3 separate regions of the Homo sapiens genome follow, and regions 1 and 2 are each linked to region 3. The links come from fine-mapping of genetic effects on gene expression. A gene starts in region 3. Each other region holds a variant in brackets. All regions are shown on one strand. Distances are between the middles of the regions.

What was found. PIP is the estimated chance that this variant, and not a neighbour inherited with it, causes the effect.
Region 1: its variant is the best candidate, but not a certain one, in a credible set for the expression of LINC01012 in esophagus mucosa (GTEx, PIP 0.72).
Region 2: its variant is the best candidate, but not a certain one, in a credible set for the expression of LINC01012 in caudate (GTEx, PIP 0.61).

Annotation. Positions count from the first base shown.
Region 1 is chr6:27,975,661-27,984,284 of GRCh38, reverse strand. It overlaps the pseudogene OR2W4P. Among named protein-coding and RNA genes, the nearest start is that of OR2B6, 23 kb to the right of the region's middle. The variant A/G (reference allele first, on the strand shown) is at 4,623.
Region 2 is chr6:27,797,515-27,806,138 of GRCh38, reverse strand. No RefSeq gene overlaps it. Among named protein-coding and RNA genes, the nearest start is that of TRQ-TTG3-3, 5.9 kb to the right of the region's middle. The variant C/T (reference allele first, on the strand shown) is at 4,212.
Region 3 is chr6:27,689,785-27,698,408 of GRCh38, reverse strand. LINC01012 (long intergenic non-protein coding RNA 1012) reads right to left here and starts at 4,374. Exons shown (of 4, transcript NR_038294.1): 1 at 3,903-4,374.

The sequences.
Region 1 (8,624 bases), 290 kb before region 3:
CATCTCCAGTGATCCTGCATGTAGAGTGGATTATTAGTGGCATCACCTTTAATGCTGGTTACTCTATTCTCTGTTGAACCTGAGGGAAAATTAAGGTAGGGCTTATTGTGTCTCTCTTACAGGACTCATAGATCTGCTGTTTCCATCCCTCTCAAAGAGCTGATATCATACTAATAAAAGTGTAGTATGAGTTTTCAGAAGCCCAAAATATGCAGTTCTTCAAACAAAGGAAATACTTATTATTCCCCAAATAATTCAAGAGGTTTTTATGGTTCAAGTATTACTAATGACTAATTTTGTTTGATTGTATTCCTTCTACTAACAGAGAACCAGTTTTTCTGAAATTATCATATTGTAATATGATCATGTCAGAATGTTTGCTATCACCCGGAATTTATCATAGCTAGGCCCACAGAAGTTTTATGTTGAGATTTAAAACAGGAAAATTAAATTGTCATTTCTAATAATACTAATGAAGTTTATAGACTTAAGTATAGATTGAAAGTTGAAGCAACTTAACAATGCGGGTGAATATTTCTGGAACCATTTAGGGCAATTTAACCATTTGTTTAAAGTTGCAATGACTTAAGGAGGAAGAGTAAAAATCTGGGAGTTATTCCTGTTCAGTTGGAGGAAGCTGGTTGTTTCCTTAGTCTAATGATACATTCTGATAGGTGAGGCTGAGCAGTAGTACAACCAGGGTGGCAGTGGGTCTGCAGTCATCCCTCTGCCATTCCCAAATCCCACCTCAGGGGAGCCTGCCTCAATAGCTACCTGTTCTCAACCACATTTGCTTTCAGACACCTACATAGATTGTCGTGTCTTTTTACAGTTAAAGAAAATTTTTACATTGATGGCAATATAGTATTAATTACTATAAAAATAACCCCATGAAATTTATATAATAATTCAGATTTTGCAGCTAAATAACTCAGGAATGAGAGAAATTAGGTAGCTTGGGGAAAGATGTAAATTTAAATATGGCAGAGCTGGGATCCAACTCTAATGTTCAGTAACTAAAATATCTCTGCTCTTTCTTCTTCCACTCTTTTTTGAAATAAAATACATATTGTTGAAGACCAGAAAGGAAAAAGGAGGATGTTTTCTAAAACCTAGGGCTAAATCTAAATGTAAACAATAATTTTATCCACTGTAAAAAATTAATGACAAAAGTCTATCCACAGGAGAAAAGGTTTTTTTAAATTTCTGGGTCATTTTATAATTTCATGAAAACCAGTAGGCCGGGCGCGGTGGTTCACGCCGGTAATCCCAGCACTTTGAGAGGCTGAGGCTGGCGGATCGTCCAAGCTCAGAAGTTCGAGACCAGCCTGGGCAACATGGTGAAACCCCATCTCTACCAAAAAATACAAAAATTAGTTGGGCATAGTGGCATGCGCCTGTAGTCCCAGCTACTAAGAAGGCTGCGGTGGGAGAATCACTTGAGCCCAGGAGGCGGAGGTTACAGTGAGCTGAAATCATGCCATTGCACTCCAGCCTGGGCTACAGGAGTGAAATCCTGTCTCGAAAAATAATAATAACTTCATGAAAACCTGCATCTACCCTATGGAAAGATTATAACCTACAAATGAAGTATTGAGCTGGAGTGTTTAAGAATTAGTTTGATCACACATGTTTGAATTAACTAAGAGTTAACACCATCTGGACAGATCATTTTCAGTGATATGAAAGTTAGTTTTGGCCACAACATGTTGATTATACCTCTAACTCTGATTATACCTCTAAGTCAATTTTATAAAGATAAAATCTTGATAGTATTTGTTCTTGGTTTTAAAGAGTGTCTGCCTCAATATGCCCCAATGTATCCAAATAAATAGTTAATCACTCCCTTAATGCAATTAATTTGATCAGTCTAAAAAGAATTAGGGCCAGAGGTAACTTTTTATGTGGGACTCAAAATCCTACCAGTGTTACACATTACAAATATTTATGATTTGCAGACATAACACATTCATTGGCAAGTAAGTGCAATAAATTTACAAGTTATTTTGCCAAAATATGTCAAGTAACATTTTTTTCACTTGCACAAAAATAAATATATCATCTGTGCAATAGAAATATCTGACTGAAAATTTCAAAAATAATTTAACTTTTTTTAGGTTTCTTAGGCAAGCATATGTTTGATGTCACAGAATAATTAAATTTCCTCATTGTATTATTCCATGATAATCTTTACATGGGCTCTTTAGATAATATTTTTGAAGAATGTTCCCATAGTCTTATAACATAGAGGTATATATAGCAGAGACACTAGCTGAGGGCATTACAAATTATAGTCAACATAGATTTTTGTTTTTCAGAGAACCAATCAATTCTGGAATTTTAGAAACAGTTACTATACAAGGTGAAACAGAATTTTTTATTTTTCTTCATAATCATGAAGAAGAAGATATTGGCACTTTTAACAAGAAACCAGAAGAAAGAAGCTACTTTTTATACTTAAAAAGTAAATATTTCCTGGGCGCCATGGCTCACTCCTGTAATCTCAACACTTTGGGAGGCTGAGGCAGGCAGATTGCTTGAGCCCAGGAGTTTGAGACCAGCCTGGGCAACATGGTGAGACCCCATCTCTACAAAATATAGAAAAATTAGCTGTGCATAGTGGGGCACACCTGTAGTCCCAGCTACCAGGGAGGCTGAGGTGGGAGGATCACTTGAGCCCCAGTAAGTTGAGGCTGCAGTGAGCTGGATTGTGCCACTGCACTCCAGCCTGGGTGACAAAGTGAGACTGTCTCAAAAAAAGTAAATATTATTTAAATGTTCTTATCAGTTATAATTGTGATATTTATTTTTACACAGAGTGAATGTGAACAGCTATGTCTTTGTGGAGGTTTGTGAGCCGTCCTCTCTTCTCAAGCTGATAACTATTATTTTTAATAAGTCTCATAATGATGAGTGATATTCTCACATTTTGGATTTATTCATTTTAGTGACTATTTCCACAAAAATGATCTCCTCTTACAATAAAATACTCTAGTAGAAAGAGGTTTGAATTAGTTTATCCTTTTAAAAAAACTACTAAAGATACTAAGAACTTCTGAGATCCAACAGAAGAATTTCTTTGGCAATGCAGTACAGATGCAGTAGATAGTTCTGTTGTGAAAAATTCTGAACACATTTACAGGGAGTATATATACCATGAATAAAAGGGAGATCTTATAGGATCGACAATCTACAAAATTTATTTTAGAACTGATACATGGCACTCATTCCATATTCATATTTCTTCTGTTACACCTTTACAAATTATTTTAGTTGGATTTTAGGCCTCGAATAGCAAAACATTTTTTTTTATTCTCGGTCTTAAGAATACTGCCAATATGTTATTTCAAGACAAATACTCTGTAAAACACAGAATATGAAAAATGAACATGGCTTTTTAAGATATTAAATTACTATTGATGTCTTCTGAAACAAATACAAAAAGCAGAGAAGTAGAAGCTGTTTGGAAATCACCAAATCTATAACACGTATTATGGGGGCTTGTACATTTATCACAAGAATAGAAATTCTAGATGTCCCCTAACTTAAATCTCTGTAGCTTTAAAAAATGGTATATGCAACTCTGCACCAGAGACAAAAGTAAGTTCATTTAAAGCATTTTTTCCACCTGCTCATTGCAGTAACTTCATTAAAAGTAATTTCTATTTTCAGTGTAAAATTTGGTATTATGTAAATATAATCACTCCCACTGGCCTTCATAACTTTCCAGCACATCTATGAATTGCAAACATATATTTTCCCACTTATATTTACAGAAGCTTTTTTAAAAAATATTTTTGCTGGTTTTAATGTTTAACAATGGGAAATGGGTAACAAATAGGGAATAATGAACTTGAGACCATAAAGAAATTGCATGAGAGAAAACCATTTTAATGAGGGGAGAAATATCCTTCTTATGCCAATCCAAAGAGGATTGGATGCACTGTTGTCACATGCATGCCAACGCTGCACTGTTGTTGTAGACACAGCTGGGGGTGCATAATGACCATATAGCACAAAGGTTTTGCAGACTGCAGCATAGCAGGGATTTTAGCAGTAATTTTATATCTATATGAGAGCCAATTCACCTTTCTTCTGGAACTGAGAATGCTGCACTGTTGTTGTCATCAGATATTTCTATTGCACAGATGATATATTTATTTTTGTGCAAGTGAATAAAATGTTACTTGACATATTTTGGCAAAATAACTTGTAAATTTATTGCACTTACTTGCCAATGAATGTGTTATGTCTGCAAATCATAAATATTTGTAATGTGTAACATTGGTAGGATTTTGAGTCCCACATAAAAAGTTACCTCTGGCCCTAATTCTTTTTAGACTGACCAAATTAATTGCATTAAGGGAGTGATTACTTATTTATTTGGATACATTGGGGCATATTGAGGCAGACACTCTTTAAAACCAAGAACAAATACTATCAAGATTTTATCTTTATAAAATTGACTTAGAGGTATAATCAGAGTTAGAGGTATAATCAACATGTTGTGGCCAAAACTAACTTTCATATCACTGAAAATGATCTGTCCAGGTGGTGTTAACTCTTAGTTAATTCAAACGTGTGATCAAACTAATTCTTAACTAACTCTCAAACTAATTCTT[A/G]AACACTAATTCTTAGACTGTGGCAGAATTCATCATAATTTCTCTTGAGTTTATAATGCATATTTAAGAAAAAAAGTTTTTATTCCAAAAATATGGGGATGACTTTTGATACCCATGGTAAGAAATTCCTTAATGACTATTTTTTTCTCTTATTGTATAGTTTACATTGAATTAAGAAAGAAAAGTATAAAACTTTTGACAATAGCTTTAAACTGAGACATTATATTGTTATAGATTTATTTGTAATTTTGAAGAACAGAGACAGAATTAGATAGTGGCATCAATTAAAAAAGAAGAAATAATTTATGGAAGAAATAATTAATCAGTTAAAATTAATAATCACCCCAAGCTACTATTGATCACTTACTATCTGCAAGGCACTTTGATATCAACTTAATACCTGGAATGATGCTAAGAGAGATTAAGAAAATAAATAGCCCTACCATCAAGGAACTTACAATCTAGTAGGATACATGAGAAATACATAAGTATAATATGGAGTAGAAAACCTGTCATTTCAGTGTATAAAAATGCCATATGTTAAAAGGAGTGCTAGAACATTTTTAAATCAAAGATTCTCAGACAATTTTATAAGTATGTTGCATTGAGCTGACCACCAAAACATGGAAAAGATTTGGATGGGGAGTTTGCATGGGACAATGTGGAAATGGCTGATATTAATAAGTGGTGAGAATTCTCTCAGAGAGTCTATTAGCATATCCCTCATGCTTGAAGGATTGTACAAACTGATGAAACAAACAGCCTGGGGCTGATTATTGAGTGATCTATGCACCAACACTCTATAACAAAGACAATATTATTCAGTGGTTAACAGCAAAGGTTCAGGCATCATATACACCATTTGCAAATCCCACTTATTCTCTGTGTGACCCAGGTTAATTAAGAGGCTTGAGACTATATACTTAGTGTTGTAACATGAATAAGATACAGGATTTAACTTACAGGGAAAAATTTATGCTTCAGTGAAAAATTATGCATTGTCCAGATTCTAGAGGACATCCCTTTGAACAATCTGATTCTGATTCTGTGGCAGATATTTTACAATTTTGTAAATTATTAACTGATAGCAATGTAAAATAATTCTTGTCTATGACATACAAATTCAGTCCTGTTGGGTAGAGATTGAATTTACTTCCTTCTCCCACAGTGGAAGAAGCAAGTTTAGCCTCTATTTGCACATGCATTTCCACATTGATTTACTCCTTATAAATTTGTGCTTCTTTGACTTTTTTTTGAACCACTTATTACATCTGTGTGGGCCCCTCATTGATTGAGTTGAATAAAAATCTTTAACACATTTATTTTATATCTATATGAGAGTCATTTCACATTTCTTCTGGGACTTAATTCTTTTTACTAAATATTATTAGGCTAAGACTTATTCATATCAAGTGTAGCTATGGTTGATTCATATTGATTTTGGATATACTTCAGTGTATTTATTCATACTTTAAAAATCCAAGAATGTTTGATACATTGGCTAGATTTCTTATAAGCACAAAATAAATGTATTTGGAAAAGATATTTTGCCTAAGACTTCACAACTTATCATATTTCTCCAGTTCATTATTGCCTCCCCAAAACCTTCTTCAGTGCTCCTTTCACCTCCTTATTCCTTAAAGTATAGATGAGCAGATTCAACATAGGAGTCACCAGGTTGTAGAAGAGAGTGAGAAACTTGCCTTGGTCTTGGGAAGAACTGTTTCCTGGCTGCATATACATATAGATGATGCTCCCATAAAACAGGGAGACCACTGTGAGGTGAGAGCTACAGGTATGGAAGGCCTTCCATTGCCTGGCAGCTGACTTGATGCTTAGCACAGCTGCAGCAATGTAGCCGTAGGAGACAAGAATAAGAGTGAGGGGCAGTAGGACAATGAGAACGGCAAAAGCAAAAGCCAGCATTTCCACTGCACGAACATCCAAACAAGCCATCTTGATCAGTGCTGGCTTTCACAGAGGAAATGGTTAACTCGGCGGCGGCCACTTCTGGAGAGGGTCATTGTTAGTGGTGACATGACAACGGCATTGACCAGTCCACTCCCCCAGGCTGCAGCCATCAGTCCTAGACACAGCTGGAGGTGCATAATGACCAGATAGCGCAACGGTTTGCAGACTGCAGCATAGCTGTCATAGGCCATGACAGCCAGAAGGATGCACTCAATTCCCCTGACAGAAAGGAAAGAGAAAAGCTGGACAACACAGCCAGCACAGCTAATAGTCTTGTCAGGGCCCCAGAGGTTTACCAGCATTTGTGGGATGCAACTAGTACTGAAGCAGAGATCTAGAAAGGAAAGATTTGCCAGAAAGAAGTACATTGGGGTATGAAGTTGAGAGTCTAATATACACACAAGGATTATGGTTGAATTTCCCAGCACAGCCACTGAATACAGAATAAAATTTACTGTAAAGAGCACCATCTCCAGCTTGGGACGATCAGAGAAACCCACCAAGATAAAACCATACACTGAGCTGACATTGGATTTTTCCATTGCCTTCCTTTCACATCATCTGTATAGCTAGTAGGGACAAAATGAAGAATATTTAATCTGCAATATGTGAATACCATTGAATGTCAGGATTTGGGGGGGACATATAACTATCAAGCCTAACAACCCATTCAATAATTGTAGCATATCTTCTGCCCAGCTAGCTATATAAGCTGTTTATCATTTGTTCAAACACATAAGGCAAAGTGTTTCATTGTTGGGAAATTCTTATTTATAATCCTCTTTTTATTAAGTAGACATTTTCTCCCTATGATGCACAAGACAAACTATTTTAAATTTATTGAATACACATCAATCTAATACCTCTTCCTATTACATCATTAACTGTTTTTTTGTTTGTTTGTTTGTTTTTGAGACAGGGTCTTGCTCTGTAGCCCAGGCTGGTGTGCAATGATACAACCTCAGCTCACTGCAACCTCTGCCTCTCAGGTTCAAACAATCCTCCCACCTCAGCCTGCTGAGTAGCTGGGACTACAGGCGCACACCACCATGCCCGGCTAATTTTGTTCATGTTTTTGTAGAGATAAGGTCTCACTATCTTGCCCAGGCTGGTATCAAACTCCTGGCCTCAAGTGATCCTCTTGCCTTGGCCTCCCAAAGTGCTGAACTGAATGGATGTTGGCCAGGTGTGAGCCACTGCACCTGGCCAATATCCATTAACCTATTATAGGCATTTACTACATCTTGACTAAATTTTCTGTAGTCTAAGACATTCACTTTCCTTCAACTGTTCTTATAAACAAGGTTAGCAAATGTATTGTCACCTAATAGCTGTCTTCTACATGCCCTCAATGTTGACAATGACCTGAAAATGTGACACCATGGCTGAGCTCACTACTTGCATTTTTGAAAAACACAAGACACAGGGAAATTACTGCCCACCATGAGCTGAACTATTATGATCTAATTACTGTGGCATAAGTATGCATCTACTTTACAGTGTTAATGTTATCTTTTCACTTAGGTTATAACTGTATCTACTAAATATCACAGTTCTTTATTCCCGTGAAATACTTACTGTCAACTTTGATCTCTACAATTCATGTCTTTGTAAGCAAGAGAATTTTGCAACCAAGATTGCCAAAGTCAGGGAGCATATTCTGTCCATTAATAAAATGGCAATTTTGAATATATTTTATCTTCAGTTAGCCTTTTGCAAATGTTAAAAAACAATGTGATTAGCTTACAGAGGAGAGGTGCACGGCAATAGGGACGAGTAGAGACAAAGGGAAGGAGAATGTGGTAAATAAAAAGGAATTTAAAAAGCATCATTTAAAAACATAAATTTAAAAAATGACCCTAACATGGCTAAGAAGAATAAAGTCAGATCGATTCATAAAGACACACACTCATAACTGGGTTAAAGGATACTAGGATAAAAGTGAAATAACAGAGAAAAGGAGAAGTGTGAAAATAGCAGAACAGCAGGTACAATATGGGTGTGAAATATACCTCACACTACAATGCAATC
Region 2 (8,624 bases), 110 kb before region 3:
TTTACTGCTTATCATGTGCCAGATAATGTCCTAAAAAGCTCTCTACATATGTTAAATCATTTAGCTTTCATAACAACTTTGTGAAAAATTACTATTTTTATACCTGTTTTACAGATCATAAAATGGGGGTTCAGAGAGCTCGAGTAAATTGCCTAAAGTGTGAAATTGTACAGTGGGAAAGTTGTCAATCAAAATGAAATCACTAATGTTAAGAAAATCCTGACACAGAGCCAAGAAAAGCCATAAAGAGAAAGTTCTCACGCTTGTATGCCTAATAACAAAAACTATCACAAAAGATGGTAAGAGCCACAACCATAAACACAGGCCATCAAAACCTTACACACACAAAAAATACTTCTACAAGACCATTTGTCCAACAACTGCCTTCCCAACCTTGGACTGGCATCGCCCTTGTTATTGTAACCCTCCTTATTTTTTTCTTTAAAAACCTTTGTCTTCCTTTACCTCCTTGAATACACATGTACTTTATAGCATATGGATTCCCATTACAATGCTTTATTCCCAAATAAATGTATTTGTCTTTAGAGAGCCTCTATGTTTGTTACTTAGGTTGGTAACAGGTAATGAGTAGTGAAAACATGATTCAAAACCAGAATCTGGTTTCAGAATCCCTATTTATAACCAGTGTATACTATACGGCTTCTCCAGGTGCTAATAATGGGATGATTTCCAAAATTTGCTGTCAAATGCAATAAAAGCAAGATACAGGATAATGTGCAGTAGAATTTTGTGTGTGTTTGTGTGTGTGTATAAATGTAAAATATTTTTGGAAGGATACTGGATAAATTGCTATCAGTGGTGGCCTCTGAGGAAAGAGAAAGTTGGATGTCCTACAGACAGGGATGGATGGAGGATCTTTTCATTGTAACTTCTTATGGTCTTTGAATTTTGAATCCTATGTGTGTATTGTCCATCCATAAAAAAAAATAGCGTAAAGAATCACTTCACTTGATTATCAGTAAAACACACATTATAAGATGATAAATGCTGCAGTAGAGATATGAATAAAAAGCCTAAGGAGCACAGAATAAATAATATTATGGGTGGGAGTGGGAAGAGTGCCAAATAGCATTCTGGGCAATAAGAAAATGGGTGTCACCTTCAAAAACGCAGAAATATTGTGGTGTGGCTAAAGTCAGGGGTAGGCAGAAGGGAGCACCCACGGGGCTGAGCAAGTAGTCTGTGACTATGCTACACCAGTGGCCTCCTTCTGTATCACGGCAGGCTTCTCAAAATGAGGACTTCAGGATAAAACAACTAGATATAATCTGAGAAGGACTTACTAAGTGAGATTCTGAAATATTTTACACATAATTCCAGATGCCAATTTAACACTATTTATTTAAATGTTACTTAAATAACATTTATTTAAATGAGCAGACTCTGAAGTTATTTGTTAATCTAGCAGTCATAGAGTTTTCTTTGTTGGTCAGACCATGTGGGAGAAAAAGCAAAAGAAAGTACTATTAGTCTCTTTTAGACTCTTACAAGTATTTGTCACCAGTTAAAAAGAGATATGTCAAATAGAGCATTGTTTTTTGTTTTGTTTTGTTTTTTTGAGACGGAGTCTCACTCTTGTTGCCCAGGCTGGAGTGCAATAGCGTGATCTGGGTTCATTGCAAGCTCCGCGGGGTTCAAGCAATTCTCCTGCCTCAGCCTCCTGAGTAGCTGTGATTACAGGCACGCCCCACCACGCCCGGCTAATTTTTGTACTTTTAGTAGAGACAGGGTTTCGTCATGTTGGCCAGGCTGGTCTTGAACTCCTGACCTCAGGTGATCTGCCCGCCTCAGCCTCCCAAAGTGCTGGGATTACAGGCGTGAGCCACGGCGCCCGGCCCAAATAGAGCATTGTTACCGTCACAATATATAACTAAATAAGCCAATGAATCAAAATTGCACACTGAATAGATATATATCTATGGGATATTCAACTGTGTCTAATATTTGGACATTTTAGAAAATGCTTTTCAAGTTAAGTGATGCTCTGCAATTATCTTAACTTACAACAAACTATTTGGTGGCAGTTTTGGATACTGGTACTACTATGATCTGAATGGTTACCCTCCAAATATTTATGTTGAAAACAAAAACAAGAAACAAATACTTGTGTTGAAGCATAATCCCCATTATGGTGGTATTAAGAGGTGGGGCCTTTGGGAGGTGAATAGGTCATAAGGATGGCGTCCTCATGAATGGGATTAGTACCCCTATAAAAGAGGGAGCTTGTTCACCCCCTGTACCATACGAAGTTGCAGCAAGAAGATGCTATCTATGAAGCAGAGAGTGAGCCTCATTAGACATAGAATATGGTGTCTCCTTGATCTTAGACTTCCTAGCCTTTAGAACTGTAAGAAGTAAAATCCTGTTATTTGTTAGTCACCTAGTTTAGTGTATTTTCTTATAGCGGCCCAAAGAAACTAAGATGCAAAACTCCATATTGAACAGGAGAGAGAAAATCTAACACATCAGATCACATCCTTTGACTGTCTTTGTGAAGGAGAATTGTAATTCCGTAGCTTCAAGGAAGAGAGACCATGCCCTTACATCTGTGTGTGTGTGTGTGTGTGTGTGTGTGTGTGTGTGTGTGTGTGAATGATTTTGTTAATTAGGATTTTATAGGGCCAAGCGCGGTGGCTCCTGCCTGTAATCCCAGCACTTTGGGAGGCCGAGGTGGGCAGATCACCTGAGATTAGGAGTCTGAGACCAGCCTGACCAACATGGGGAAACCCCGTCTCTACTTAAAATACAAAATTAGCTGGGCGTGGGGGCGCATGCCTGTAATCCCAGCTACTCGGGAGGCTAAGTCAGGAAAATCGCTTGAACCAGGGAGGTGGAGGTTGCGGTGAGCCGAGATGGCGCCATCGCACTCCAGCCTGGGCAACAAGAGCGAAAGTCCGTCTCAAAAAAAAAAAAATGTATAGCCAGGCGCGGTGGCTCATGCCTGTATTCCCAGCACTTTGGGAGGCCGAGGCAGGCGGATCACTTGAGGCTAGGAGTTCGAGACCGCCCTGCTCAACACAACATGGTAAAACCCCGTCTCTACTAAAAGTTTTTTTAAAATTAGGCAGGCATGGTGGCTCGCGCCTATAATCCCGGCTACTCGGGAGGCTGAGGCAGGAGAATCGCTTGAATCCGGGAGGTGGAGGTTGCAGTGAGCCGAGATCGAGCCACTGTACTCTAGCCTGGGCGACAGAGTGAGATCCTGTCTCAAAAAAAAAAAAAAAATTATTTGCAAGGCCATGTTCTAAAATTTTATTAGTAGGTATTAAATTATAAGAAGGAGTAGGCCTGAATGGATATTTGACATGAAGAAATATAAAAAGACTGGAAGAGGATTTTATTTCATAACAGGAGAATAAGAGAGCATACGTATCCTTCAACAGGGCTTTATTGTCTACCCTCTAGGTGATACTTCTCTCAAATGAACATTTTGGCTTATTGTCAGGAATAAGGGTATTTTTTTGTTTTTGTTATTTTCATGCTTAACGTAGGTACAGTCCTCAACTTCTTTCATAAAAGCTTTTTTCTAAATTGATTTTTTTTCATTACAACCTCATGTTCCCTTATAAGAACTTACTCTTCAGCCTGTCTCAGAACATATTTACAAGATATGAGCTATAATTGAATAATCATAGCATTTAAGGCTAGAAAACCTTAAGCAACGTCAGTTCATTTGTGCTGCTATAACGGAATATCTGAGTGAGTAATTTATAAAGGAATTTATTTTTCTCCCAGTTCTGGAGGCTGGGAGTACAAGATTCAGGTCCTAGAAGATTCCATGGCTGCTGAAGGCCAGGTCTCTGCTTCCAAATTGGCACCTTGAGTCCTGTGTCTTTGGGGGAAGGTTGTGGGGAGTAACACTATGTCTTCCTATGGCAGGACAAAAAGGGATGAACTCCCTTCCTCTGTCAAGCCCTTTTATAACAGCATTAATTCATTCCTGAAAGCAGAGCCCTCATGACTTAAACATTTTCCAAAAGACTCTACCTCCCAACCTTGTTGCACTGGGGCTTAAGTTTCCAACACATTAATTTTGGGGGACACATTTGTACCATACCAAAGAAGGTCCTGCAAACCTGACATTCTCCCCTAGCCTGCCTTCCTCTGCAATGTTTCCATGAGTGTCGGTTGTTATAACCTGGATGTACTGATGGAATGCTTCAGGTGGGAATTTTATTTATTTATTTATT[C/T]ATTCATTCATTCATTCATTTATTTGAGACGAAGTCTCGCTGTCACCCAGGCTGGAGTGCAGTGGTGCAATCTCTGCTCACTGCAACCTCTGCCTCCCACGTTCAAGCGATTCTCATGCCTCAGCCTCCCAAGTAGCTGGGACTACAGGTGCACACCACCGCACCCAGCTAATATTTGTATTTTTAGTAGAGACGGGGTTTCACCATGTTGGCCAGGCTGATCTCAAACTCCTGAGCTCAGGTGATCCGCCCACCTCGGCCTCCCAAAGTGCTGGGAGTACAGGCGTGAGCCATTGCACCAGGCCTTTTCAAGCAGAGATTTTATTGGGATGCTTGCATCTGAAGGATATATTCACAATAACAAAACTTATAAGAAAATAGTAAAGCTAGAACTCATTGTGTTAATTATAGTGGAAGATGTGCCTGGACTTAGAACTGACCACAAATTGTTAATCAGAAATTGCTTTAGTAAGTAACAAATCAAAGTAAATGAAACAGCCTGGTTACTAAGGAATAGTTTCATAATTTTGAATGGGATTAAAACTTGTCTCTCTTACTGTTGGTGGAATCCTGTCTTAAACAGCCACACAGGCAATCTAGCATGAACTAATAGTCCTTCCTTGGTTGGTTTTGGGCTGCAACTCATTGATAATCATCATGCTTAGTTTGCCTTTGTTCCAATTCCAAGCAGGCCAACCACTTTCCCATGTACATATTGTAACCACCCAAGGGGTTAACCTTGCCCGCTGCCTAGACAGAGCTGATTCATCAAGACAGGGGAATTGCAATAGAGAAAGAGTAATTCACACAGAGCTGGCTGTGCAGGAGACTGGAGTTTTATTACTCAAATCAGTTTCCCTGGGCATTTGGGGAGCAGAGTTTTTAAGGATAACTTGGTGGATGGGGGGAAGCCAGTGAGCCAGGAGTGCTGAATGGTCAGAGATTAAATCATAGGGAGTTGAAGCTCTCTTCTTGTGCTGAGTCAGTTCCTGGGTGGGGGCTACAGGATCAGATGAGCCAGTTAATAGATCTGGGTGGTGCTATCTGACCCATCTTGAGTGCAGCGTCTGCAAAATATCTCAAGCACTGATCTTAGGAGCAGTTAGGGAGGGTTAGAATCTTGTAGCCTCCAGCTGCCATAATTTTTAATCTTGTGGCTAATGTTAGTCCTACAAAGGCAATCCAGTCCCAAGGCAAGAAGGAGGTCTGCTTTGGGAAAGGGCTGTTACCATCTTTGTTTAAACTATAAACTACAAACTAAGTTTCTCCCTAAATTAGTTCAGCCTACACCCAGGAATGAACAAGGATGGCTTGGAGGTTAGAAGCAAGACGGAGTTGGTTAAATTCCATCTCTTTCTCTGTCTCAGTCATAATTTTGCAAAGGTGGCTTCAATATCTGTCATTAAATTGCTGGAATGTTACTTTATTTTGCATTTGACTATTTTTTTTTTAAATTTTTATTTGAGATGAAGTCTCGTTCTGTCGCCCAGGCTGGAGTGCAGTGGCACGATCTCTGCTCACCACAACCTCCACCTCCCAGGTTCAAGCGATTCTCCTGCCTCAGCCTCCCGAGTAGCTGGGATTACAGGCGCGTGCCACTGCACCTGGCTAATTTTTTGTGTTTTTAGTAGAGATGGAGTTTCACCATGTTGGCCAGGCTGGTCTTGAACTCCTGACCTCAGTTAATCTGCCCGCCTCGGCCTCCCAAAGTGCTAGGATTACAGGCGTGAGCCACTGTGCCTGGCCCGATTATTTAATATCTGAGAAACATAAGAGGCTAAGAAAAGCTTTGAAAGAATGTCATCTATTTTATTTATGCTTATATTATGGCCAGGTTATATTTCTTTTTCTTTTTTTTTTTTTTTTGAGATGGAGTCTCACTCTGTTGCCCTGGAGTGCAATGGTGTGATCTCAGCTCACTGCAACCTCCACCTCCCGGGTTCAAGGGATTCTCCTACTTCAGCCTCCCAAGTAGCTGGGATTACAGGCACGTACCACCACGCCCGCCTAATTTTTTAAAAGTTTTTAGTAGAGACAGGGTTTCTCCATGTTGGCCAGGCTGGTCCCGAACTCCTGACCTCAGGTGATCCACCTGCCTCGGCCTCCCACATTGATGGGGTTACAGGCATGAGTCACCGTGCCTGGCCAACCAGGTTATATTTCTATAGCCTCTCCAAATTCTGGGAACGAACCCCACTTGAGGCCTACAACACTAAATTCCCACATCCCCAAAAGATGTACTCAAATATTGGAGCAGTTAGCACAGTCCAGACTATCAAATGTGTTGACCTGAAATCTATTTTCTGTATGGACAAGAAGACTACAGACTGAGAATTTTAATAGAAGATATTGCCATTCATAAGAATTGTGCTGCAGGAAGGAAAAGAGACGAGAAAACCTACAAGCTTAACCAAGAAAATGGATCTAACCTTCCATTCAGTGGCCCCCAGATCTTCCTGTTCCTTTCCATGCAATGAACAAACATAGGAGCTAGAACCTGGTTCCTTGGTGTAAAACAAACAAACAAACAAAAAAACAACAAAAAAAAAACAGCCAAAACTGAGGATCTAAGGTCATCTTGACCTTTGTGAGATCACCACAAAGAAACAAATGCCATTTTGTCCACTGTGTGATCACAAACAAGTCAGTGACACTCATTATACCAGTTTCCTTAACAGCAAAATAGGGGTGAAAATCAGCCTCATTTTATCAGGAAGTTGTATGATTGAATAAGACAATGAATAAGATATATGTAGGACAGGCATGGTGGCTCATGCCCGTAATCCCAGTACTTTGGGAGGCCGAGGTGGGCAGATCACTTGAGGTCAGGAGTTCAGGACCAGCCTGGCCAACATGGTGAAACCTCGTCTCTACTAAAATTACAAAAATTAGCTGGGCATGGTGGCACATGCCTGTAATCCCAGCTACTCAGAAGGCTAAGGCAGGAGAATCACTTGAACCCGGGAGGCAGAGGTTGCAGTGAGCCAAGACTGCGCCACTGAACTCCAGCCTGGGAAACAGAGCGAGGCTCTGTCTCAAACAAACAAACAAACAAACAAAAAAGACATATGTAACAGGGAAATAATTATCACCATGCATTAAGAGGAAAAGAATAATATAGAAATTACTGCAAATTATATTTATAAGTGAGGAAAATCACTCAGAGCCAGTAATTTTACCTCTATATGACCCCATCAGCCAGCTTAAAGGAAATTAACTTACTTAACCAAAAAAACATTTATTGAGCACTTAATATATGAGAGACAATATATTAGCATTGAGAATACACGCTGAAAATAGCCTGCTAAAATTCCTGTTCTTATGGTACTTTGAGGTGGGATTAAATTCCATAACATGTCATCACCTTGATAAGTGGTTTAGATAAAAATACAGCAGGAAAGGGGATAGGGAGCTGGAGATTGCATTTTTAAGGAGGGCATACAAATGAGGTCTCATTGAACTGTCATTGGCATAAACTGGTGAGAGAGTATATTGCTACCTGGGGGAAGCTGTTTGGGGCAGAAGGAACTATGAGTGCAAAGTACCAGAGGCAGGCTCTGCTTAGCATGTTCTGGGAACAGCAGGTTAGGCCATAGTGGTGGGAGCAAAGACAGCCATGGGGTGGGTAAGAAGTTTTGAGCTTCATCGTTCACCTTCTTGGCTCTTAGCCCAAAATGATTCCTACATAGAGCCTCAAAAACCTGCACATTTTCTAAATAGCTGCTGAAAAAATGCACCACAAAATAAAAAAGAGAAAATGGCTCTGCCCCTGCTAAGATCTAGATCTAGGAAAGCAAATGATATTCTTGTACAATGATGCATAAAGGGATAAATTCTAATAAAGGAGTATTGGTCTCAGCTGTACCCCATCACCAAGACCAGTGCATTAAATGCAATACTGAGTGAATGATACCCAACAAATGTCTTATTATTGCTTCATATAATAACAGTACATAGCACATAGAGGGTATCTTTGGGGGAATTTTCTTTAATCATCTACTTAAAGTTTTTTACTTTTCCGCATTTTATCCCACTCTTTCAGACTCCCAGGCCAACAATTTTGTAAACACCATTTTTGAAGATACATAACAAAGGAAACATGAACACTGATATTCACTAAGGCATTATTTATGGTGGCAAAAAATTTGAGACAGGCTTTTTGGGCAACACTGAGAGAGTAGTGTGAACCTAAAGTATCTGAAACAGGTCTCAATCAATTTAGAAAGTTTATTTTGCCAAGGTTAAGGACGTGTCCATGACACAGCTCAGGGGCTCCTGATGACATGTGCCCGAGGTGGTAGGGGCACAGCTTGGTTTTATACAGGGAGACATGAGACTTCAATCAATATGTTAAGATGTACATTGGTTCAGTCTGGAAAGGGACAACTCAAAATGTGGGGTAGGGGGAAGGTT
Region 3 (8,624 bases):
TAAAGAAATGTGACACTTTAGGAAAAAACAGACATTAGCTATTTAATAAAACAAAATTTTTCTGTGTAATAGTGTTATATACAGGGAATGAAGGAAAAATATGTTTCTTCAGTTATATGTTTACTGTATATATATATGATTATGTGTGTATATATTTATATATAAAGCTATATATATAGTTAACTGTACATATATAATTGTGTGTGTGTATATATATGTGTATGTATATATGATACATACACACAGTTATTCACTGCATTGTTTGTGGTGGTGAAAGATTAGAAACAACCTAGTGTCTATCACCAGGAAATGAGTAAAGCCCAAGTGTTCATCACCAGGAAATGGCTTAAATATATTATGGTATATCCATATACAAATGAAGACACTGTATATTAATATAGAAATCTCTTAAGATAGAGTGTTGTGAAAAAAGTTGGAAAGTATGCCACCTAACAAATAAATAACAGTGAAAATAGCCGGGTGTGGTGGCTCACACCTGTAATCCCAGCACTTTGGGAGGCCAAGGTGGGCAGATCACCTGAGGTCAGGAGTTCAAGACCAGCCTGGCCAACATGGCGAAACCCAGTCTCTACTGAAAATACAAAAATTAGCTGGGCCCAGTGGTGCACGCCTGTGATCCCAGCTACTCAGGAGGCTGAGGCAGGAGAATCGCTTGATCTCTGGAGACAGAGGTTGCAGTGAGCCGAGACTGCACCACTGCCCTCCAGCCTGAGTAACACAGCCAGACAACCTCTCAAAAAAAAAAAAAAAATATTCTATCATTCTTTTTTTTGCAACAGCTTCCAGGAAGTCAGCTTTCTTCTCCTTTCACTAGCTTTTCTCTTCTTCCCTCTACCATAAGCACATACATACAAGATTACTTTCAATGTCAGTAAAAATATTCTTTTAAAAGCCATTTTTTTTTTTTTTTTTTGAGATGGAGTCTCGCTCTGTCACCCAGGCTGGAGTGCAGTGGCGCGATCTCGGCTCACTGCAAGCTCCGTCTCCTGGGTTCACAACATTCTCCTGCCTCAGCCTCCTGAGTAGCTGGGACTAAAGGCGCCCGCCACCACGCCCGGCTAATTTTTTGTATTTTTAATAGAGACAGCACTTTGGGAGGCCAAGGGGGGGCGGATCATGTGTTAGCCAGGATGGTCTCGATCTCCTGACCTCGTGATCCGCCCGCCTCGGCCTCCTAAAGTGCTGAGATTACAGGCGTGGGCCACCGCGCCCGGCAAAAGCCTATTTTGAAAGAGGTTTCTTATTTTCTTATTTTTTTTTTCTGAGACAGGGTCTCACTCTGTCACCCAGGCTGGAGTGCAGTGGCGCGATCTCGGCTCACTGCAACCTCCGCCTCCCGGGTTCAAGTGATTCTCCTGACTCAGCCTCCTGAGTACCTGGGATTACAGGTGCAGGCCACCATGCCTGGCTAATTTTTATGTTTTTAGTAGAGACGGGGTTTCACCATGTTAACCAGGATGGTCTCGAACTCCTGACCTCATGATCCGCCCCCACCTTGGCCTCCCAAAGTGCTGGGATTGCAGGCGTGAGCCACCGCCTGAAAGAGGTTTCTTTTAAGAGTCTGTTTTTACCAGCCAATGTCAACTTCCTTCCTCTCATGAACTCTACCCCTTCCTGGCTAGATTCTGATCATCCTGGTGTATTTGTCACAGACCCAAAATACAAATCTCTAGTCAACAGTATAGAGCTCTTCATGGCTTCCAAAACAAGGCATATTTCCTTCCTAGAATGTTCCTTCTCTGGAATCCCCGTGATTCACTCCTCATTCCTTAGTCTTTGCTTAAATAATGGTAAAGTCTTCCGCATTCATCCTATTTAAAACTCAACACCCATTCCTCACTCTACCCTACTCCATATTGCCCTTCTCTGATTTCTTTTTCTCCACAATACCATCACCTGAGAAACTGTATTTTCCTCTAGAATAAACTCCACAAATATGGAGATGCTTGTCTTAAATGAATAAAGCCATGTCTATTCAAAACCAATTAGTCAAAATTAGTATCATATTCTTGGTTACTATTTTTTCATAAACTGTCAATTTGGTGTAACCTGGTTCTCATATCCCATTCCCCTTTTCTAGACATTCCTTTAATCAACATACTACTGAAGCTTTCCTTTTCTTTGTAATAATTTTAAAAACCCAGGTCTTTGTGATTGCAATGCTTGCTAGAGGCATCATGCAGGAAATGGCAGAAAACGGGTCCTCTTATATGCTGAACCAATAGTTCATGGAATGGTTGTGGGGGGGTCACAGATCTTGTAATCTGAAGTGCCCCATTGACTAAAAAGTAAAAAACACATGGCTGGGCGCGGTAGCTCACACCTGTAATCCCAGCACTTTGGAAGGCCGAGGTGGATGGATCACCTGAGGTCAAGAGTTCGAGACCAGTATGGCCAACATGGTGAAACCCCGTCTCTACTTAAAATACAAAAAATTAGCTGGGCGTGGTGGTACACACCTGTAATCCCAGTTACTCAGGAGGCTGAGGCAGGAGAATCGCTTGAACCTGGGAGGCAGAGGTTACGGTGAGCCAAGATCGCGCCATTGTACTCCAGATTGGGAGACAAGAGCGAGACTTCATCTCAAAAAAAAAAAAAAAAAAAAAAAGTATAAAACACAGGCTTTTATGTTATACAGACATGAATGAAAATCCTTGGTTCTGTCACTTACTAGTTGTGGGATGTTGGACTTATTACCAGGTTAAATCCTCTAAGCCTCAGCTTTACTGTGGTTAAATGGATATAAAAATATCCAATCTCTCTAACAGAGTTGTGAGGATTAAATAACAAAATTTGTAAACCTATTTAATAGTACTGGGCATACAACTCCTCAATAAATGTTATTACAATCACTGCGACAGAACAAAGATCACTGGAGGAATATTTCCAAATCGTTAGAGGTTTTAAGATCATCACAACTGTAATCCCAGCACTATGGGAAGCCGAGATGTGTGGATCACTTGAGGTCAGGAGTTCGAGACCAGCCTGGCCAACATGGGGAAACCTCGGCTCTACTAAGTAGCTGGGCGTTGTGGCACACACCTGAAATCCTAACTACTTGGGAGGCTGAGGCAGGAGAATCGCTTGAACCCGGGAAGCAGAGGATGCAGTGAGCCAAGTTGGCACCACTTCACTCCAGCCTGAGTGACAGAGCTAGACACCATCTCAAAAAAGGAGCACCACTGAACTTTGTAACATTAACTGACAGAAAAGACACTAGACACTAGAATTCTATGAGCCCCCAGCAGTGTCAGAAAATCCTCTTACATGTATTTTGTTTTTTGTTGAAGAAAAAAAACTTAAACAGAGAAATATTGCTAGATTTCTTAGATTAGATAAGGATAAAATGAGAACTATCTTATTCTACTCGTTCCTTGTATTATTCAAGATTCAGTACCCTGCTGGTAAGTTTCATTCAGCGAATCCAGCACACATGAATTAAATGCTAGTTAAGGTACAATGTCTCCAACAGGCACGATGTCAGAATAATGGTTTCTGTCCATCAGAACAAAGGATGAGATGCGCCTCTTGGATTTGACTGTAGCCCAATGGTCATCATCGCTGGCTGCACATTAACATTATCCAGGAAATTTTAAAGCTCTATAGGTGATTCTAAGGAAGAGGAGGACTGAGAGGCCGACTGTTAAGATGCACTGCTACTGTCCGATGAGCACACACTCATCCATAACGTTACACATTTCCTATTCACCTGATGCCCAGAATCATCAAACAGTGTATTCAACACAGTCACGCCATTTCTGTTTTCCAGGTGACTATCCTCCACAAGATACTGTTATCCAGAGCAGGTAAACTCCCTAGCATCTGTCGCTCAAGAACTTAAATCCCTCCCTGCACCCAACCCATCAACAGTGACTTATTACCATCCACAAGCCAGGCTGCTTCCCGATGCACCTTTTCTCCTGGGGAGTGCCCAGACGAGCGCCATCTGCTCCTGGGTCAGAGGAGTCCCTGCAGAGTCATCGACTTCCTCATTTCCAAAAGCCCCATAGGTTGCACTGGAGTCCCGAGGCGAAGCGCCGACACTTCATCTGCCCGTCACCTCCCGATTTTTGCAATGTGTTTCTTCTGAACAAGAATGTGTGCCCTGGAAGCCAACTCAAGTCCCAGACCTAGGTTTCTCGACATTTCCCCAAGTCCCACCTGCGTCAGGTTGTAGGCTCCGGGGCCAGTCCCTTTCGATCCGCATCAAAAAACCTGGCGATCCCCTTTGGGCACAAGAGCTCAGGGCGTTGGTCCCCGCGATCGCGGAAGCCCACTTCCAGAAAAACTCGACCACTAACAGTAAGCTTCAGGGGTAGCAAAAAGGGGCAGAAGGGTTTGCATCCCCTGGCGTCATTTCCGGGTCCGCTCTGGAAACCTCGGAGGTTTCCGTGTCTCTGTCGTTTATTCCAACTGTTAATGCTCCATGTGCCTTTGACTCTCCTCACCTTCCCTTCTAAACACACGGGGAAGAAAGGTTCAGGTTTCCCAGAGAAATTGTGGGGAAAAACCTTTAAAGTATATATACAAAGGTAGACAGAATAGTACAGTGCATCCAATGTACCTGACACACCTTCAAGAATTACTAACTCGGCCGGGCGCGGTGGCTCACGCCTGTAATCCCAACACTTTGGGAGGCCGAGACGGGCGGATCACAAGGTCAGGAGTTCGAAACCAACCTGGCCAACATAGTAAAACCTCGTCTGTACTAAAAATACAAAAAACTAGTTGGGCGTGGTGGCGGGCGCCTGTAATCCTAGCTACTCGGGAGACTGAGGCAGGAGAATCGCTTGAACCTTGGAGGCGGAGGTTGCAGCGAGCCGAGATGACACCACTGCACACCAGCCCGCGCGACAGTGCAAGACTCCTCTCAAAAAAAAAAAAAAAAAAAAAAAAAAAAGAAGAAGAAGGCCTGGCGCGGTGGCTCACGCCTGTAATCCCAGCACTTTGGGAGGCCGAGGTGGGCGGATCACCTGAGGTTGGGAGTTTGAGACCAGCCTGACCAAAATGGAGAAACCTTGTTTCTACTAAAAATAAAAAGAATTAGCCGGATGTGGTGGTGCATGCCTGCAATCCCAGCTACTAGGGAGGCTGAGGCAGGAGAATCGCTTAAACCCAGGAGGCGGAGGTTGTGATTAGCCGAGATAGCGCCATTGCACTCCAGCCTGGGCAACAACAGCGAAACTGCGCCTCAAAAAAAAAAAAAAAAGAAAGAAAACAAGATGAAAGAAAAGAAATACCAACTCGTGGCAATTTTATTAATCTATAAACCACTCCTCCCCTTATGTGGTTGGAAGCAAATCTTTTTAATTTTTTTTTTTTTTTGACGGAATCTTGCTCTGTCGCCCAGGCTAGAGTGCAGTGGCGCGACCTCGGCTCACTGCAACCTCCACCTCCCGTGTTCAAGCGATTCTCCTGCCTCAGCCTCCTCAGCCTCCCGAGTAGCTGGGATTACAGGCACCCACCACCGCACCTGGCTAATTTTTGTATTTTTAGTAGAGACGAGGTTTCACCACCTTGGCCAGGCTGGTCTCAAACTCCTGACCTCGTGATCCACCCGCCTCGGCCTCCCAAAGTGCTGGGATTACAGGCATGAGCCACCAAGGCCGGGCCACTCCACTTTTCCTTAAAGCAAAACCTGTCATTCTTCTGTTTCTTACCTCTTAGTTTCTTAGTCCTTTTTTTCCTATTAGCCCTATTTGTATTTATTTGTTATTAATGCACTATGACTAATAAAAACTTGCCTAGGGTCAGAAACTTTGAGCTTTAGCAGAAACAAAAACATACAAACAAAAACTCAGAAAGTTTTTTCAGATAAAGTTTTGTTTTTCAAGTACAATTAAGAGCATGATTCTGCTCAGGCGTGGTGGCTCGCGCCTGTAATCCCAGCACTCTGGGAGGCCGAGGCAGGCAGATCACTTGAGGTCACGACTTCGAGACCAGCCTGGCCAACATGGTGAAACCCCAACTCTACTAAAAATACAAAAACTAGCTGAGTGTGGTAGCGGGTGCCTGTAATCCTAGCTACTGGAGAGGCTGACGCAAGAGAATCTCTTGAACCAAGATAGCGGAGGTTGCGGTGAGCTGAGATCCCACCACTGCACTCCAGCCTGGACAACAGAGCAAGACTCCATCTCAAAAAACAAAAAACAAAAAACAAAAAAAAAAAAGAAAGAAAGAAAAGGGAAAAAAGCATGATTCTGAACAGTTTGGTCATTTTAGAAACTTTTGGGATAAATCTGAATACTCAGAGTTTTCTCTGGCCATAAAATAGAAGATAGGAAAAATGTAAATTTTTATTCATATGGAGAGAAAAGTCACAGTTGTCCCTGTATTATCTTTAAGAAAGCTCCTGTTCTTAATTCTCTAACTAACTGTAATAATATCTCGAAGGACTATCTGTAAAACAAAAGGAAACAACCACCTGTTAAATTCAGAATTCCAAAACATGTAGTTGTATCTCCTGTGTAATATAAACATCCATCTCATGGCCTTGCTTATTAATCATTCTTTAAAAATTATATATAAATTGGTTCTATGACCACTGTAAAAGTACCTGCATTTTGTTTGTTACATAGAAAAGTTTAAGGTTCAATGTAATCTTTAAGGGACCTAAATTGGCATAATAATATTTTCATAATTGGGAGGAGGGGTTATGACTTTCCTTCAATGCATGGGGAAAAACCACTTTGCTGCTTGTGGCAGCAGTATTAACTATAGTTGTAAGATTAGACAGCTTAAGGGTAATACCAACACCAGATGTGGTAGAACAGTGCCAATCACAGAGAAAGAGTCAGAGTACCTCTGTAGTTCCTGTCACGTGAGATGTATTTCTGTCCTAAGCCAATTGGATTATTCTTCCTTTTTCCCATTTTTATTTTTTATTTCGCAGCTGAATGATACATTCTAATGCAACATCCTTAACACTTACCAAGTTCTCAATTAAATCTATTCTGCATGATCCCCTCCTGTCTGGTAAATCTGGTAAATCTTCTCTGAGTCCTTTAGCTTCCTGCTCCCGTATGGATTAGTTGCATTCTAGGTTTCTTGAATAGCTGTCATCCTGTGTTTTTCATTTTTGAGCTCCTAGATCAGATTCATCATTTCCTGAGTTCCATGTCTTTCTCTGTCTTCCCCCCTATTTTCCCTGTAGTATATATATTCAGTTTGCGTCTTAAAATGTAGGTCAGCTTTTTGAGTCATGATAGGTTTATAAATGTCTTTATTCCAACTTCACATTTGATGTTACACATAGCTATAGAATTCTGTATTAAAACATTTTTCCTCCAGATTTTGAGGCATTATTTTGTTTTCTCCTAACATTCATTCGAGGTTGCTGATGAGACGTCTGATGCAGAAAGAGTATCTTTCTCTTGCCCACCACCATTACCTCTGAAAGCTGTTAGAATCTGATGTCGTTTGCTTTCAGTCTTATTCCACCGTGAGCAGGTCTATACAAGTCTACTCCTAAAGGCTGAGGAAGCTGAGAGGCCAAAGAAAGAGGCTGACAAATTCAGTTTCTCAGAAAGAAACATTTAATAACAGAAGCCATGTCTTGAGTGGTAGCAAGACAAGATGATGGATCCCCACATTGTCACCAGCCAAACCCAGGGCTTATGAACCACAGGGAATTTGCCTAAGGGCAGGATTTTTTTTTTTCTTTTCTTTTGAGACGGTCTCCTTCTGTCGCCCAGGCTGGAATGGCCAGATCTTGGCTCACTGCAACCTCTGCCTCCCAGGTCAAGCGATTCTCTTTCCTCAGCCTCTGGAGTAGCTGGGACTATAGGCACGCCCCACCATGCCCAACTAATTTTTGTGTTTTTGGTAGAGATGGCATTTCACCATGTTGGCCAGGCAGGTCTCAAACTCTGGACCTCAAGTAATCTGCCCACCTCGGCCTCCCAAAGTGTTGGGATTATAGGCATGACATACCGCGCCTAGCCTAAGGGCAGGATTTGTGTATGGTAAGTATGTGGTTACAATAACACCAAGGTTGTTTTCACCTAATTGCAGGATTTATTGTACCTCAAAGTAGAAATCTTAGAGGCATTCCCAGAACTGGGGTTAATCAGAAGTCAATATGGTGGGTTACCATCCAAGATGGAGTGGCTTTCAGCTGGGCACAGTTGCAGTTGGCCAAGATCATGCCACTGCACTCCAGCCTGGGCAATAGAGCTACAGTGTCTAAAAAAAATCTATATCTATATCTATATATATATATACACACACACACACACACACATATGCACACACACACATATATACATATATAATATTCATGCACACACATATTTTTGTACTCTAGTTTGTTACTTAACATTATTTCCTTCATATCTTTTCACTAGAGACAGCGGATTGCCACACCGAAGAGTGAGAGATCAATAAATGTTTGTTGAAATTATATATAATTTCCTTTGATTATTGTACAGCTTGGGAGCCCATATTCAAACCTCTTTGATGATCATATGGTCTAGGAAAGAAAGTGCTTTGTTCACCTTATAAGAGAAAATTAAGGGTATCGTCTTCACCACCCTCTTTCCTACGATGAAAAAGCCTGTACTTTGTACAGTGGACAAGAAGTATCTATATTCAATTCCTGGCTA